Linked DNA regions of Homo sapiens: region 2 is linked to region 1. Evidence: fine-mapped expression QTL. A gene starts in region 1. The other region holds a variant in brackets. All regions are shown on one strand. Distances are between the middles of the regions. Region 1 holds the start of UNKL-AS1 (UNKL antisense RNA 1). Region 2 overlaps UNKL (unk like zinc finger).

Evidence for each region.
Region 2: its variant is fine-mapped to the expression of UNKL-AS1 in prefrontal cortex (ROSMAP, PIP 0.95).

The regions. Positions count from the first base shown.
Region 1 is chr16:1,403,538-1,411,668 of GRCh38, reverse strand. UNKL-AS1 (UNKL antisense RNA 1) reads right to left here and starts at 3,275. Exons shown (of 2, transcript NR_188570.1): 1 at 2,777-3,275. All of the region lies in intron 2 of UNKL (unk like zinc finger), which reads left to right. RefSeq lists silencers at 2,852-3,001, 3,272-3,341, 3,392-3,441, 3,320-3,497.
Region 2 is chr16:1,374,411-1,382,541 of GRCh38, reverse strand. The region is part of intron 10 of UNKL (unk like zinc finger); the gene reads left to right. Among named protein-coding and RNA genes, the nearest start is that of GNPTG, 27 kb to the right of the region's middle. RefSeq lists silencers at 2,770-2,909, 2,940-3,019, 3,060-3,109, 3,180-3,249 and an enhancer at 6,871-7,370. The variant G/T (reference allele first, on the strand shown) is at 3,160.

The DNA of each region.
Region 1 (8,131 bases):
ATTTTTAGTAGAGACGGGATTTCTACATGTTGGTCAGGCTGGTCTTGAACTTCTGACCTCGTGATCTGCCCGCCTCGGCGTCCCAAAGTGCTGGGATTACAGGCATGAGCCACCGCGCCCGGCTGTTTTTGTTTTTTGAGACAGGGTCTTGCTCTGTGCCCTGGGCTGGAGTGCAGGGGCATGAACACGGCTCACTGCAACTTGAACCTCCAGGGCTCAAACCATCTTCCTGCCTCAGCCTCCTGAGCAGCTGGGACCACAGGAGTGCTCTATCACTCCTGGCTAATTTATTTTATTTTATTTATTATTTTGTTTTTGAGACCGAGTCTCACTCTGGTTGCCCAGGCTGGAGTGCAGTGGTACGATCTCAGCTCATTGCAGCCTCTACCTCCTGGGCTCAAGTGATTCTCCCACTTCAGCCTCTGGAGCTATAGACTCTCTACACCACGCCTGGCTAATTGTTTTTGTATTTTTAGTAGAGAAGGGGTTTTGCTACATTGTCCAGGCTGGTCTCAGTCTCAAACTCCTGGACCCAAGAGATCCTCCCACCGCAGCCTCCCAGAGTGCTAGGATTACAGGTGTGAGCCACCACACACCTCGGCTCATTTTTAATTTTTTTGTAGAGATGGAGTCTCGCTGTGTTACCCGGCCTCAAGCGATCTTCCCACCTTGGCCTCTCCAACGTGCAGGGATTATAGGTGCAAACCACCACACCCGGCCATAGTGTTGTTAAGGCAGGTTGATGCCTAAACTTGAAATAATGTAGTCAGCCCATTTTGGTTAGGATGGTGATGTACTTCAAGGCGGTTCTGAAAGTGCATAATTGAATTGGTTTTTAAGCCACTGTTTTCCGCAAATGGGGCTTTCAAAGGCAGGTATTTGTCTAGTTGATGTCTGGGCTCAGCCCCTGATTTCCCTTGGTCAAGCCCCTTATCTGCCCAGACCTGGGATCCTGAGTTGCAAGTAGGGCCACTGCTGCTTAACTCTGGTGTGGGGGTCCTGGAAGTGTGAAGACGAGCACCCAGCCTGTCTGACCCCACTCCAGTGTTGAATACAGGGCACTGATTGGCAGCACTCTATGTCACCCAGGCTGGAGTGCAGTGGCGTGATCTCGGCTCACCGCAACCTCTACCTCCCGGGTTCAAGCGATTCTCCTGCCTCAGCCTCCCAAGTAGCTGGGATTACAGGCATGTGCCACCACGCCCGGTTAATTTTGTATTTTTAGTAGAGATGGGGTTTCTCCATGTTGGTCAGGCTGGTCTCGAACTCCTGACCTCAGGTGATCCACCCGCCTCGGCCTCCCAAAGTGCTGGGATTACAGGCATGGGCCACCGTGCCTGGCCAGGTGATGCTTTTAATGCATAAAGATAAAGCATCTTTTTCTCTCTTTTTTTTTTTTTTCTGAGACAGGGTCTTGCTTTGTCACCCAGGCTGGAGTGCAGTGGTGCCATTACAGCCCACTGCAGCCTCGACCTCCCGGACTTAAGCAGTCCTCCCACCTTAGCCTCCCAAAGTGCTGGGATTACAGGTGTGCAGCCCTGCACCCGGCGAGAAAGCATCTTTTCATAACTGTTTCTTTTTTTGGAGATGGAGTCTCGCTCTCGCTTTATCTACCAGACTGGAGTGAAGTGGTGCGATCTGGGCTCCTGTATCCTCTGCCTCCTGGGTTCAAGCAATTATTGTACCTCAGCCTCCTGAGTAGCTGGGATTACAGGCGTGTGCCACCATGCCTGGCTAATTTTTGTGTTTTTAGTAGAGATGGGTTTCACCATGTTGGCCAGGCTGGTCTTGAACTCCTGACCTCAGGTGATCCGCTAGCCTTGGCCTCCAAAAGTGCTGGGATTACAGACATGAGCCACCGCGCCCGGCCTCATAAGTTTTTGTTGCGGAGTCTGGGTGTCTTGGTGTGGACTCAGCCTCACTGCTAGGCACAGGGTGGTATCCAGTTCTTACAGGGATGGACAGTGCTGTAGTAAGCGCCTGCCTCTAGGTGGTCACTTCAAGCTGTGCTCAAGTAGCAGTTCCATAACATCATTACAAAAATATTAGCCTGCTGTCTGAATGGCTTACAGTTTATAATTGAGGGTGGTAAGTGGGGCTAAGATGCCTGTTTGGTGTTTTGTTTTGGATACCTGGGTATATGCACACATAGTAAGGAAATTTCCTTATTTTATTTAAGATTTTGTTTGTAGCGTGTGAATGACTTGCTTCGACCGGCCCTTTAGGAAGTGTCTGACAGGCTGCCTCCCCTGAGATCTCTCCTCCATAATTATCCTTCATTCCACGGGAGTGGGACTTTCTCATCGCTGAACAAAGGGAATAGCCAGTTTGTCCTATTGAAGTACCCGTTCTGGTTCTCATTAAGGGTTGCCTCGGAATTTGTAAATAAAGGAACGTTCAGAATAAGGACAGGGCCTTCCTTTTCTTTAGTTCATTGGTTTTTAAAATTTCTATTTTGGCTGGGCGCGGTGGCTCACGCCTGTAATCCCAGCACTTTGGGAGGCCGAGGCGGGCAGATCACGAGGTCGGGAGATCGAGACCATCCTACATGGTGAAACCCCGTCTCTACTAAAAATACAGAAAAATTAGCTGGGCATGGTGGCGGGCACCTGTAGTCCCAGCTACTTGGGAGGCTGAGGCAGGAGAATGGCGTGAACGTGGGAGGCGGAGGTTGCAGTGAGCCGAGATCGCGCCACTGCACTCCAGCCTTGGCGACAGAGCAAGACTCAAAAAAAAAAAAAAAGAAATTTCTATTTTGGGTGTTGATACTACCAACCTGTTATTTTACACATGAATGTGTATCAGAGAGCAGAGACCCTTAGCCCGTATCAGGCGTTGCTCTTGGTTGTGGCTGGAGGTGCTGGGGCTGAGCTGTGGGGCAGAGCAGGACTGGGACCCCAGGAGGGCCCCCCGCTGCTGGCGTCTCCTTTCCACGGCAGGCTGGCACCTCGCTCCACCCCTGCCTGCTCAGTTGCTGCCTCTGTCAGCCCCCCCTGGGGGCAGCCCCACCGGTACCAGCTCCTGCGGACGCCTCTGCCGTCACCCCTCCCTCCGTGGAGGGTGACCTCCTACAGCCCCTGCTGTCATCTCTTCTCTCTTCCTCATCCTATGGCTCCCCAGGTCACTTCTCGGCGTCCTCTATCCTCTGTGGGCACCCCCTCCGGTGCCTGCCCCCGTGGGTGCCCCCACTGTGCACCCTTTCCTAGGTGGGTGGCTGCCCCTTGTTGCACCCCACGCCGTGCCGGTCCTGTGGGCATCAGCGTGATCTCGGCCCCGCCCCGCCCCGCTCGGGAAAGGCCTTTTGTTCCGCGCGACACGCCCCTCCGCTGCGCGCCCGCGATTGGCTGTCCCGGGTCACGTGTGAAGCCCCGCCCCCGTGGGAACCGTCCTGGTCGTTGGGGGGGGGGGCAGCTCCCATGTGGGCGTGGCCTTGAGGCCCCGGGGGTGTAGCTGAGGGGCAGGCGCTTGCTTTTCTCTTTAAACAGATTGCGGTAAAGAAATAGAAAAGGCGCCCCGCGGGACCCCGGGCCTCTCCAGGGTCCATCTTTTTTTTGTTTTTCTTTTGAGCCAGGGTCTGGCTCTGTCTCCCAGGCTGGAGTGCCGTGGCTCGATCTTGGCTCACTGCAACCTCTGCCTCCTGGACTCAGCTGATCCTCGTGCCTCAGCCTCCGGAGTACCCAAGCGATCCATATGCCTAGGCTTCCCAGAGTCCTGAGATTACAGGCCTGAGGCACCATGCCCAGCCTCTAGGCCCATTTTCATTGGGAAAAAAAAATACACGTGGCCTGCAGCTGTGTAGCCACAGAACGAGTGGCCATCTGCCAGCCCACCCCTGTCCAGAAGAGCGCTCCTGCACTGTGGCCCTGCAGCCACCCTGGGTCTCGTTCTCAGAAAAAACAGGCTTGCCCCATTCCTGTGGTGCCACTTTTCCAGATTGACACACAGACACAGGTTTGTCCTTTTTTTTTTTTTTTTGACAGGGCCTCACTCTGTCGCCCAGGCTGGAGTGCAGTGGTGTGATCTTGGCTCAGTGCAACCTCAACCTCCTGAGCTCAAGTGATCCTCCCACCTCAGCCTCCAAAGTAGCTGGGACCATAGGCGCACACCACCACGCCCAGCTGAATTTTTGTATTTTTTGTAGGGGTGGGGTCTTGCTGGTTTCGAACTCCTGGGCTCAAGTAATCCACCCACCTCTCCTCCCAAAGTGCTGGGATTACAGGAATGAGCCACTGCGCCCGGCCTCTGTCTTCTTTCCAGAGCTCTGTTTGGCGGTGTCACCTGACAGACCTGACACTTCCCGCTTGCCCTGTGCGCCTCCCCAGGCCTCTGTCGTCCGGCAGGTGCAGAACTCCTGTCTGGATGGGTCCGGGGTGTGCCTAGCTGGGTCTCCACTGTGCATTCTGTGAGTAACTGGTGGGAGGAGAAACTTTTCCAAGTATCCATTTCTAAGATTAACTGTTGCTGCTTGTATCTGGCGGGTCTGGAGTCTGATCTTTTTTTTTTCTTTCTTTCTTTTTTTTGAGATCGAGTCTCCCTCTGTCACCCAGGCTGGAGTGCAGTGACACGATCTCGGCTCACTGCAGCATCCACCTCCCGGGTTCAAGTGATTCTCCTGCCTCAACCTCCCGAGTAGCTGGGATTACAGGCGTGCGCCACCATGCCCAACTAATTTTTGTGTATGTGTGTATTTTTAGTAGAGATGGGGTTTCACCATGTTGGCCAGGCTGATCTCTTAACTCCTGACCTCAGGTGGTCCACCTGCCTCAGCCTCCCAAAGTTCTGGAATGACAGGCGTGAGCCACTGTGCCCGGCCAGGAGTCTGATCTTTCTATTAAAAGATCCTCTTGCAATATTTAATTTTAAAATGTTGAATGCCTTAGGACCTAAGGCGTAGGTGAAAGTTCCACTCACTTCAGGGTGTGTAGAATTTGCTGTTTAAACTGATCTCATGATGAGCTTGGGCTTTGGGAGCAAGAGGAAAGCCCACGGCCGGCCTGGGACGTGCGAGCAGTCTTTAAAACTCAGAGGCATCCGGGTGCAGTGGCTCATACCTGCAGTCCAAATACTTCAGGAGGCCTAGGCAAGTGGATCGCTTGAGCCCAGGAGTTTGGGACCAGCCTGGGAAACAGCAAGATTCTGTCTCTACAAAAAAATTAGGCCGGGCGCGGTGGCTCACGCCTGTAATCCCAGCACTTTGGGATGCCAAGGCAGGCGGATCACCTGATGTCAGGAGTTCAAGACCAGCCTGGTCAACATGGTGAAACCCTGTCTCTACTAAATATACAAAAATTAGCCAGGCATGGTGGCAGGTGCCTGTAATCCCAGTTACTCGGGAGGCTGAGGCAGGAGAATCGCTTAAACGCAGGAGGCAGAGGTTGCAGTGAGCTGAGATTGTGCCACTGCACTCCGGCCTGGGCAACAGTGAGACTCTGTCTCAAAAAAAAAAAAAATTAGCAATATAGCCCGGCATGGGAGTACGCCTGTTCCTCCCATCACCCCCAGCTGTTTCAGTGCTGTGCTCTGGGCCCCCCACCTATGCCTGCGTCCTTAAGCTGGAAGGGAGTCGTGTACACTGCCTGTCTCCTAAGCCCGGTGGTTCTCGCACGTTCCCTGGGAACCAGCCGGCAGTGCAGATCCACGGGCCTCGTCCACACCAGCTGGGGGGACCACATGGGCCACGGGCCTCCTAGGTGATTTTGATGCATGTGGCTCGCAGTCTCGAGAATGTGTTAAGGGGGTCTGGTGGACCCTCCTTGGGTTCAGGTGAGAGCTTCCTGAGGGAAGGGCAGCTTCTTGCACTCCAGGATCTGGCTGCCTCCTATCCTCTGGTCTCGGTGGGTCCAGGGCATTGGAGCGTGAGGCAGAGCGGTGCCCATGTGCTGGGTGTAATCACGTGGCTCTGCTCACTGATTGTCTCGGATGAGTTTGAGAACCGTGTTTGTCACCCGACCCCCGGGGGCTCGTGCGTCCCCTCCTTGGGCATCCGTGAGCAATGGCTCTGTGCTTTCTCTTAGGTATTCCCTCTCACCTCCTAGGTGTCCGTAAGAGTAAGGCATTTTCTTAAAACTTTTTCCAGTTTCTTTTTTTTTTTTGAGATGGAGTTTTGCCCTTGTCACCCAGCCTGGAGTACAGTGGCGCGATCTCGGTTCACTGCAACCCCCGCCTCCCGGGTTCAAGTAATTCCCTGCCTCAGCCTCCCGAGTAGCTGGGATTATAAGCGCCTGCTATCATGCCCGGCTAAATTTTGTATTTTTAGTAGACCAGCCAGGCTGGTCTTGAACTCTTGAGCTCGTGATCCACCCGCCTTGGCCTTCCAAAGTTCTGGGATCACAGGCGTGAGCCACTGTACCCAGCTGCCTGGCTGGCTGCCTGCCTTCCTTCCTTTCTCCCTCCCTCCCTCCCTGTCTTTCTTTCCTCTCCCTCCCTCCCTTCCTTCCTCGCCTCCTTTTTTTTTTTTTTTTTTTTTTTTTTTTTGAGACAGGGTCTTGCTCTGTTGCCCATGCTGAAGTGTGGTGGCACAATCACGACTCACTGCAGCCTTGGCCTTTTGGGCTTTAAGCGATCCTCCCTCCTCAGCCTCCCAAGTAGCTGGGACCACAGGTGTCCACCACCACGCCGGGCTAATTTTTAAATTTGTTGTAGAGATGGGGACTCACCATGTTGCCCAGGCTAGTCTTGAACCCCTAGCCTCAAGCAATCCTCCTGTCTCTGCCCCCCAAAGTGCTGGGATTACAGATGTCAGCCAGTGTGCCAGTCCTTCCTTCTAAGTCTGAAAAATACCCCACTGTGTGGCTGGAAGCCCGCGTTTACCCCATTGTGTGGATAGAAGCCCACGTTTACCCTGTCTTGTGGACGGAAGCCTGCGTGTACCCCGTCACGTGGATGGAAGCCCGCATTAACCATGTTGTGTGGATGGAAGCCCGCGCTTTCCTTATTGACTCCATTGGCGCCCACTTGGGTGGTTTCTGCCTCTTGGCTCTTGCGAATGACGCTGCTGTGAACATGGGTGTGCAGGTGTCTCCTGAAGACCCTGCCTCCAGGTTTTTTGGATGTGTACTTAGGAGCAGGATCGCTGGGTACCAAGGTAGCGTTGTAATTTGACTTTTGCTTGGCTGGCTCCTGGGGACCCTGAGAGCCAGCCAGGCACCCCTTCTTCTGCCTCTGTCGACCCTCAGCTTTCAGTGTCTGGCACATCACAGGTGCCCAGCGGAGCCTGGGTCGGCCTCTCTGAACTCTGTGTCTCTGTTTCCTGACCTTAGAGGATGGGGCTAGACCTGGTGTTGCTGAATCGCTCTTGGTCCCCAGCCATCCCTGGCTGGAGCTCCTAGTGCCCAGGCTGCAGCCCTGTGCACAGTGAGGTGGGCGGGGCCCTCACGGAGCTCCCCAGTTGGAGCTGGAGGTGAAGGTTTCAGTCCTTACATTTGGGGGCCTGCAGTGACGGCCCATGTCATCCTCTGCCTTGGCCCTTGGGCCACTCAGGGTGATTCTGTGACCAGCCAGGGCTCGACACCATTGATGACTCAGGGTCCTCTGTGCGTCCCTTTGCCTCCTTCTGGAGTGACCTACCTGGAGGCGCCCAGGAATGCCAGAGCGGTTTGTGTCGTCTCCTTGTCTCCGTCGCTGCTGCCTGCCTATGACTTGAGCCTTGGCAGCTGCTTCCCCTCTCCACTGCACCCCATCGTGCTTCAGGAGCTGCCTGTGACTCCCCAGGAGCATGGCTCTGGGCCTGCAGGTGGCCCATGGGATGGTGATGCTACCTCACCTGTGTTCCCCACCACGCCATCTGCCGCCTCTTCTGCCCATCCCCCTCGTGTCCCCCAAGCCGCGTCCAGGGCCCTGTGCTTGTTCCCTCCCCTACCTCCCTCCTGGGGTCCCTGAAAGCAGCAGGACGCTGGGCAGGAGGGGCCCCCACTTTGTGACTGCGACGGGTAAGGAAGGTGACGCAGCCTGCGTGCAGGGCATGAACTCTCATTCCCACACAGGTTTAAAGGTTTATTTGGAACATTAGGAAGGATGAGCTTTGTGGAAATTCAGCATTGTGTTTCCTGCTGTGTTTGGCTGACTGGGGGTTTGCGATGGTCTGTGTTTCTTACTGTGTTTGACTGGTTGACTGGGGGTTTGCGGTGGTCTG
Region 2 (8,131 bases), 29 kb after region 1:
GTCCCTCCCTCAGGAGGCCATGGGGAGAGTGGGAATCCTGGATGGACCCAGCGCCCAGTGGTGGGGCTTGGTCGGGGCGGGGGCAGGGGCACAGGCGCAAGCAGTGTTTGCGTTTGTTTCGTCCTCACTGGCTGGGAGTATGGGGCTGCCCTGCCCAGGGAAGGGCTCCTCATTTCTGCCTTGCCATGGAGGGCTCACCTGGTTTCAGGACAGGACTCAAACTTCCGCCCTCCGGCCTGTTTTGGAAGTCATCTTCTCTCGGAGCCTCTATGGAGGAGGAAGCATGTGGTGTGGGATGTCTCCTGTTAGGGCTTCACCGTAAAGGGTAGGTTTTTAAAACTGTGAATACTCCATGGGTGGGAGTGCTGTGTGCTGTGTTAAGCTTTCTCTCAGGCAGAAACAAGCCCACATGTGTTTTCAGTTTGAAACTAGGGCGTACATGTTGTTCCTCTTGAACAGAGAGGTCTCATGAGTTGAATATGCTGGGGTGCCCACCCCCATCCCATTCCATCCCAGCCCAGGGACAGAGCACTTGGAGATCACCACAGGTGACGGCCTTCCCTGAGTTTGTTTTTGTTCATTTTGGGGTTTTATTTTTTAAGACAGGGTCTTGCCCTGTCACCCAGGCAGGAGTGCAGTGGTACAGTCAGCTCGCTGCAGCCTCCAACTCCTGTGCTCCAGAGATGCTTCTGCATCAGCCTCTCAAGTAGAGCTGAGACCACAGGCAGGCACCACCGGGCCCGGTGAGAACATGCTAGTTTTAATTTGAGATCACTATCATACATGGGTTGCATAATCCAGGGCCCTGGATCTTACTAAATCACACCCTCAAATTCACACATCCCCTTCAGAAACTCAGAGGTCAGGGATGAAGTCTACACAGTGGCTAAAGCTCCATGAGGGTCTGGCCTCTGAGCAGGTTCTTTTTTTTTCTTGCTCTGTTGTGCAGGCTGGAGTGCAATGGCACAATCTTGCCTCACTGCCACCTCTGCCTTCCGGGTTCAAGCGATTCTCCCTCCTCAGCCTCCGGAGTAGCTGGGATTACAGGTGTGTGCCATCATGCCCGGCTAATTTTTGTATTTTTAATAGAGACGGGGTTTTGCCATGTTGGCCAGGCTGGTCTCAAACTCCTGACCTCAGGTGATCCGCCCACCTCAGCCTCCCAAGATGCTGGGATTACAGGCGTGAGCCACCACACCCGGTCACTTATTTTTTTCTTTTAAACAAATAAGCACACATTCTTTTTAAATAAAGTTTCTCTTCCCCAACCTAAAAGTAGTAATGCTAGAATTTGAGCATAGCAGAAAAATATTTAGGAAAATTAAATCCCAAACAAGAGAGACCATCTTGGACTGTGCTCACTCGGGTGGAAAGTCGACCCAGGTGCCTGTGTGCTTGACAGAGGCGTGGCTGCATCCGCGTAGCTGACCTTCAGATGGACTGGAGTTAGCACATTTGTAGTCATTTTTCCAACCATTCTTTCGTATCTGAGGTACGTTTTTGACCTGTTTTAGTATGTCACTCGCGATCTTGAAGCACACTCTTTCATTTACTTAAATATTTCCTGAGCCGTGAGCAGTGGCTCACGCCTGTAATCCCAGCACTTTGGGAGGCCAGGGCGGGTGGATCACCTGAGGTCAGGAGTTCAAGACTAGCCTGACCAACATGGTGAAACCCCATCTCTACCAAAAATACAAAAATTAGCTGGGTGTGGTGGCTTGCTCCTGTAATCCCAGCTACTCAGGTGGTTGAGGCACGAGAATTGCTTGGACCGCAAAGGCGGAGGTTGTAGTGAGCTGAGATCGTGCCACTGCACTCCAGCCTGGGTGACAGAGCGAGACTTGTTCTCAAAAAAAAAAAAAAAAAAATCCTGAACCAGCTACTCAGAGGTGAAGAGATGGATTTTTTTTTTTTTTCAGGATCGACACTGCCTTAGTTAGAGGCAATGTATTGTTGCTGCTGCTGCGGCTGAAATTGTGAGCTTTGCCACCCAGTGCCAGCCTCACTTTTTTCCTCTGTCCATGTCTGAGACATCGCTGTAAAGTTACATCCCTGCACTAGCCACAGGCACTGGAGGCAGTGTCCTGCCCGCTGACCCCAGGGCACTCCTGCGCCCCAGGCTCAGGGACTCCCTGCCCATGGCTCCCGGGACTGTCTGGCCCCAGGTGTAGGCCCGCCTGGCTGCGTGTGTATTTTATTAGCTGTTGTAGAGGGTTTTGGACAAAGCTGGTGTGTAGACTGGGTCGTTTTTTCCTTGTGTTAATAGTACAGTTTCCTTCAGGTTGTAGGTGTACTGTGACTGGAGCACGGAATAGAAGAAATGAGCGGATTCTGTATTTAAGGGATTTTTAGTGGGATCATTTCAGACCCATCTGATAGGTTCCATTTTCCTTCATCTTACACTTCATAGGAACAGGTTTCAGATTAAGAGAGACCTGCGAGCTCCGTACCCCGCGTTTAGATGGGGCTGGGCAGGCACGCGGACTTGGGAGGGAGGAGGGTCCTGCAGGGCAGGCAGCGGCCCCAGCTCACGCCGCCCCGCCCCGCGAGCGCCCCTGTTGGGTCGACCGTGTTTCACCTGAGTCCGCCCGGAGCAGCTGCAGGTGCAGGTGGGCAGGGCAGGAGGAGCCGGGCAGCGGGGCAGCTCTGGGGCTTTCTGCCTGAAGACCTCTGGCCCCCGCTGCCCGCGCCCACTTGCCCGCCCAGCTCGTAGCCAGGAGCCGCGGGGACCGGGTGCGCCCGAGTCGGGGGGAAGGTTGGGGGAGGGCAGCGCGGGGGGCGTGGCCAGTGCGACGGGGGCGGGGCCGAGTCACGTTGCGGGGCGGGGCCAGCGCGGAGGGGGCGGGGCGCGGGCCGGGTTTGAATCCCCGGCGGCGGCGCGGGGCGGCCGCGGACCGTGAGTCAGCATTGGCGGCGGCCCCAGCGCGTGGCAGCCGTGCGCCGCCAAGGTGCGGGTCTCGTTACTCGGCGGTCAGGAGCGGGCCCTCCCTTAGGTGCGCCCCCCGCCAGGTGCGTCCCCCGCGTCACGGAGCCGGGTGTGACAGCCGCGGGGTGGGCCCGGGCTTCTCAGAGGCCCGGAGCGAGGCGAAGGCGTCGCCTTCTCGGAACCTGCCTCTGCCGGGCGCTCGCCGCTTCCCAGCGCGGGCTCGGGCCGCCTGC[G/T]TCCCCTAGCTAGGCGGGGTCGGTGCCCCGAGGGAGGGCAGGGGAGCGGGGCAGGAGAGCGGAGCGGAGCGGGGCAGGAGAGGGCAGGGGAACGGGGCGGGGGAGGGCCGACCCCTGCGTCCTGGCCTGGCCCGCCTGCACTCAGCCCGCGTGGTACGGGAATTTCCCTGGCGTCGGCGGCTCCCCCGCCCTGTCCTGAGTTCCGAGCAGTCTGTAGCTTGTCCTCGCGTGTCCCTGACCCCGGGGGACCGCGGCGCCTTGAATGTGCTGTGTCACGGCAGAGCCGGGCTGTGTCGCGGTGACTCAGCGGGGCCGGTGGTTTCCTAACGCCCGGGGCTGAGGCAGCCTGGCCTGACCCAGCTGTACTCGCTTAGGTGACCAGCCTCACCTAGATTTTGCCTCTGCACAAGGGTCAGCTCTTTCTTTGAGAATGTTTCAGAAGATCTGGGTCTAACCTTGAAACAGTGAGGTGAGGTGGGGGAGAAGCTGCGGGTGAGAAAGTGGGCCAGGACGGTGCAGCAGCCGTCTCCCCCCTTGATTTCTGGGAGTGAGCCCTAGATAGCACCCTAGGGGTGGTGGAGCCTCCAGGACCCTCTCCGGTGCTCTCTTTGGATGAGGGGCACTTGGCTTTGAAGCGGGGCCGGAGTCTCTCGGGGGCACCCACACGCTCCCTGAACGTCCCCTCTCCAGGCAGCTTCCCGGGCTTCAGCACAGGTGACTTGGCTGAGGTAGGTGGTGGCTGACGCCCTCTGAGTTGAGTGCGAGCCGTAGTTTGTCGGGTGAGCATTGAAGGCAGCTTAGCCCCTCCACATGCTGCGCACTCTGCAGCTGGTGGGTGAAGCTTCTGCCGACTTAGCACGGAGCCTGGTGGGATCACCCCACTCCAAGGGGAGAAAAGGCGCCTCCGTTCCTGTCCCCCAACTTCTTTGCGTCTTTGATTTTCATGAGGAGTTTCTGGATCTCTGCCAGGTGTGAGGGGCGGTGAGCTCTGAAGGGGCTGCCATATCCTGATCCTGGGACTTGGGTGCAGAGGGCAGGTCCAGGTTCCCGAGCCTGGCTGACCTGACTATGGGCAAACCGCTTGGCCCTGCCCGTCATCAAGCCCCCGTATGGGAGCATGAGGGGGCTGTGGGCAGGCCTGCGGGTTGGGGGGTCGGTGCCTGTCCTCAGTGAGTCTGTCCAGGGCCCTGACATGGTTCAGGCTGACACCTGCAAGGATGTAGTGGGGGGCATTCCATGCAGGGCTTGGAGGCCGAGCAGCTTTCTGGGGACTGGTGTGGCTGATCTTACTGAATGGAAGGCACAGCCAGGCTGAGCCTGCAGTGGCACAGCAGGTTAGGAGCCCGGCAAAGGACCCATTGGGAAGCGGTGACCGGCACGCGCAAGGGCACAAGCTTCCTCCTTTCTTGCAGGTCAGGATTCAGGATGCAATGAGGCTTTTCTTGGTAGGAAGGTTACTATTGCAATGCATGAAGGCAGGCTGGGCATGGGCCTCAGGGGGTGTGGGTTGAGCGAGCAGCCCATGAGGAAGGGATCCTGCAGTGCCAGCTTCCAGCAGCCCCTGCACACGTGGTGTCTGGGAAGGGCCTGCAGTGGGGCCATGGGAACAAGCAAGGGATCCTTTGCCAGGGAGGAGGAAGGGCTTTGGCCCCTGCTGGACATCTGGGCTCGGGGCTGCAGAGCCACTGTGTTGGGCGGGTCCAGGCCACAGGAGAGGCTGCCAGCCCTCAGGGAGGAGGGTGGGCCTGGGAGGGAAGCTGGTGCCTATGACAAGAGGCAGTTCAGGGCACAGGCGCAGGGCTGGAGGGAAGGGCCCGGGGCAGCGGTGGGCAGAGTGAGTGGTGAGGAGGCCCCAGAAAACAGCTGCAGGGGGAGTGGAGGCAGAGGGGGGGTCTCCTTTCTGAGGGAGGACTCAGGGAGGGAGGGCTGTGCACAGCAGGGGCCAGATCTGTTGATACAGAGTCCTGAGGGGCCTGGGGAGGACGGGCAGGACCAACAGGGGCATCTGCAGGTGGGCCCCCATGTCCTGGGTTGAATTGTGTCCCCTGAAAGTTGCATTTGAGGCTGGGCATGGTGGCTTGCACCTGTAATCCCAGCACTTTGGGAGATGAGGCAAGCAGATCACCTGAGGTGGGGAGTTCATGACCAGCCTGACCAACATAGAGAAAACCTGTCTCTACTAAAAATGCAAAATTAGCTGGGGGTGGTGGAGGGCACCTGTAGTCCCAGCTGCTCAGGAGGCTGAGGCAGGAGAATAGCTTGAACCTGGGAGGCGGAGGTTGCAGTGAGCTGAGATCGCGCCATTGCACTCCAGCCTGGGTGACAGAGCAAGACTCTATCTCGGTTGGGGGGGCTGGGTGTGGCGGGGGAAGATGCACCTGAACCCCAGGCGTCGCACCTAGGTACGTGGCGTTGCAGGGAAACACAGCAGGTCCTCTTATCCCAGGGTTCGCTGTCCACTGCCTCATTTGCTGGTGCGAGGTCTGGGTTCAGGACAGCAGTGTACAGCATTTGCGCAGGTAACTTTTATTACTGTGCGGTGCTGAAATCTATGTTACCAGTTAATCTTGTTAATCTCTTACTGGGCCTGACGTGCAAATGAGGACGTTCGTATAGGAAAAAGCTTGGTATATAGGGGTTCCGTGCTATCCGCAGCATCAGGCGTCCATGGGGGGGTCTTGGAATGTATCCCCCTGCTACAGATCGCAGGGTGCTACTGCAGGGTCCTCATAACCAGGTTAAAATGAGGCCGGTAGGGTGGGACCCTGAGCCAGTGACCAGTCTCCCTATAAGAAGAAACTTGGACAGACACTCGGAAGAGGTGGCCCCCAGAGCAGAGGCAGACACTGGAGCCACGCAGCTGCCAGCCATGAAGGAGGATGGACGCCAGGAGGAGGAGTGCACCCCAGCCCTGGAGGGAGGAGGAGTGTGCCAGCCCTGGAAAGAGGGAGGAGGAGCATCCCCAAGCCCTCAGAGGAGGGAGGAGGAGTGCCCCAGCCCTGGAGGGAGGAGGGAAGAGGAGCACCCCAGCCCTAGAGTGAGGGAGGAGGGAAGAGGAGTGCCCCAGCCCTGGAGGGAGGAGGGAGAGTGGAGGAGGAGCGTGCCCCAGCCCTGGAGAGAGGGAGGAGGAGCGCCCCAGCCCTGGAGGGAGGAGGGAGGAGCATGCCCCAGCCTTGGAGTGAGGGAGGAGGGAGGAGCATGCCCCAGCCTTGGACTGAGGGAGGAGGAGCGCCCCAGCCCTGGAGGGAGGAGGGAGGAGCGTGCCCCAGCCTTGGAGTGAGGGAGGAGGAGCGCCCCAGCCCTGGAGGGAGGAGGGAAGAGGCCCTGCCCGCCACAGATCTCACTTTCAGCCTTGGAGCCACCTGTCCAAGGCCGCTCAGTGCGTGGTCCTCTGCCACTGCCTGCAGTGTCTCGGCTCTGCTGCTCAGCACGACTTCAGTCAGGCTTTGAGGTCTTGCCCTCTTCAGCCATGGCCTGAGAACGTCAAGTGGATGACAGCGACCGGGAGGGCTGGCCCACCCTGCAGGCCAGGGTGGATGTCCGCTCAGGGACGCCACCGTCCTGTGAATGGGAAGGAGAGGAGTGAATGGCTCTGGGTGCGGCTGGCCCAAGGCCTGCCTTTGGCTCCGCCGATGAGCATCCTTGAGGGCTGAGGCATTTTCGGATGCTACTGTGGGTTCCTGGTCCCCAGGGGGTCTTGGCCTGGCTGCCCCGACCCCCAACCTGTTACTCTAGTTTCTGGATAAGACCTTCGAAAGTCCCTAAAAGCTTCATTGGAACGGTGTCTCCGTGGGAGTGGAGGCCACTCCCGCATGCGCCGTGTGCCGTCCCGGACGCCCCAGGGGTTCAGGTTCTCTGCCCTGGGCCCTGCTGCCTCTGTGACGGGATGGGGAAGGACAGTGTTGCCAGGTGGCGCCACAGCCCGGCCTCCACGCCCCGGAAATTCCCTCACGGCTGGCGTGTGGACGAGGGTTGAGTCTGGGTCGTGCTGTGCGGTGGAGTGGGGTGGGGGTGGCCTCTGCCTTGCGGCCTCTGGAGTCCACCGTCCACTCCCGAGCCAGGCTTCTCTCCCGCCTGCCGCTCTGGGTGGTGGAGCACGGTCTCCACACAGTGTGGCTGCTGAGCGCGGCCAGATTCGGGGTGAAGTTCAGAGGCCCGGACCTGCCAGCTGCGCCACGTCCACGCCAGCCTCTGCCTGTGCTCCGCTGGGGCCACCACCGCGGCACGAGGATACTCCGGCTGCCCTGGGGGGCTCGGGGGGTGTGACCGCCGAGCGCCAGGCCTCGGGCGAGGGGCCACCCGCCACCCTGTGGTTGCTCCCATGGTCCCCGTGGCGCTGACTGGTGCCAGCTGCTTCCAGGGAGGAGAAGCGGAGGCCTGGGCAGAGGGGTGAGGTGCAGGCCACGTGCCCCACAGCTGTGTTCCCGACAAATCTCATGTGCGGCTAGGGCAGCGTTCTTCTTCAGAAGTCACCCTCCTGCCTTTCCTGCTGATTATGCTGAAAATGTCTGGAAAGGCCCCAGCTGTCTTCCCCGGCAGAGTGGGGTTTTGTCCCTCTGCGGCCCCTTGGCTGCCGAGTCCTTGTTTCTCCAGCTGTTTTTTGGGATGCCCCCTGTGTGGTGAACCTGCTGTCACCCTGACATGGCCACCAAGTCCTGACGAGTCAGCCCTGCCTGGCTCAGCCAGCTCCCTGCTGGGTGGGGTGGGTTGTGGGGAGTGAGGCTGCAGGAGGTCTGCGAGGGCGGGACTCGATGTCGGGTAGGTGGGGCAGTGACCGCCTCTTTGCTTCTGCTGGGCCCCAGCTTGTCTGAACCGAGCACCAGGCAGGGGCTGGCCAGGCTGTGGAGGTTCCCGGCGCGCCGACCCCCACGGTCGGGTCTGACAGGTTTCCCCGGGGTGCGGTTGCCTGGGGCCATGGAGGGACCATCGGTCCCAGGTGAGGACAGGAGGAAGGGGGTCTAGGGCCCTTCAG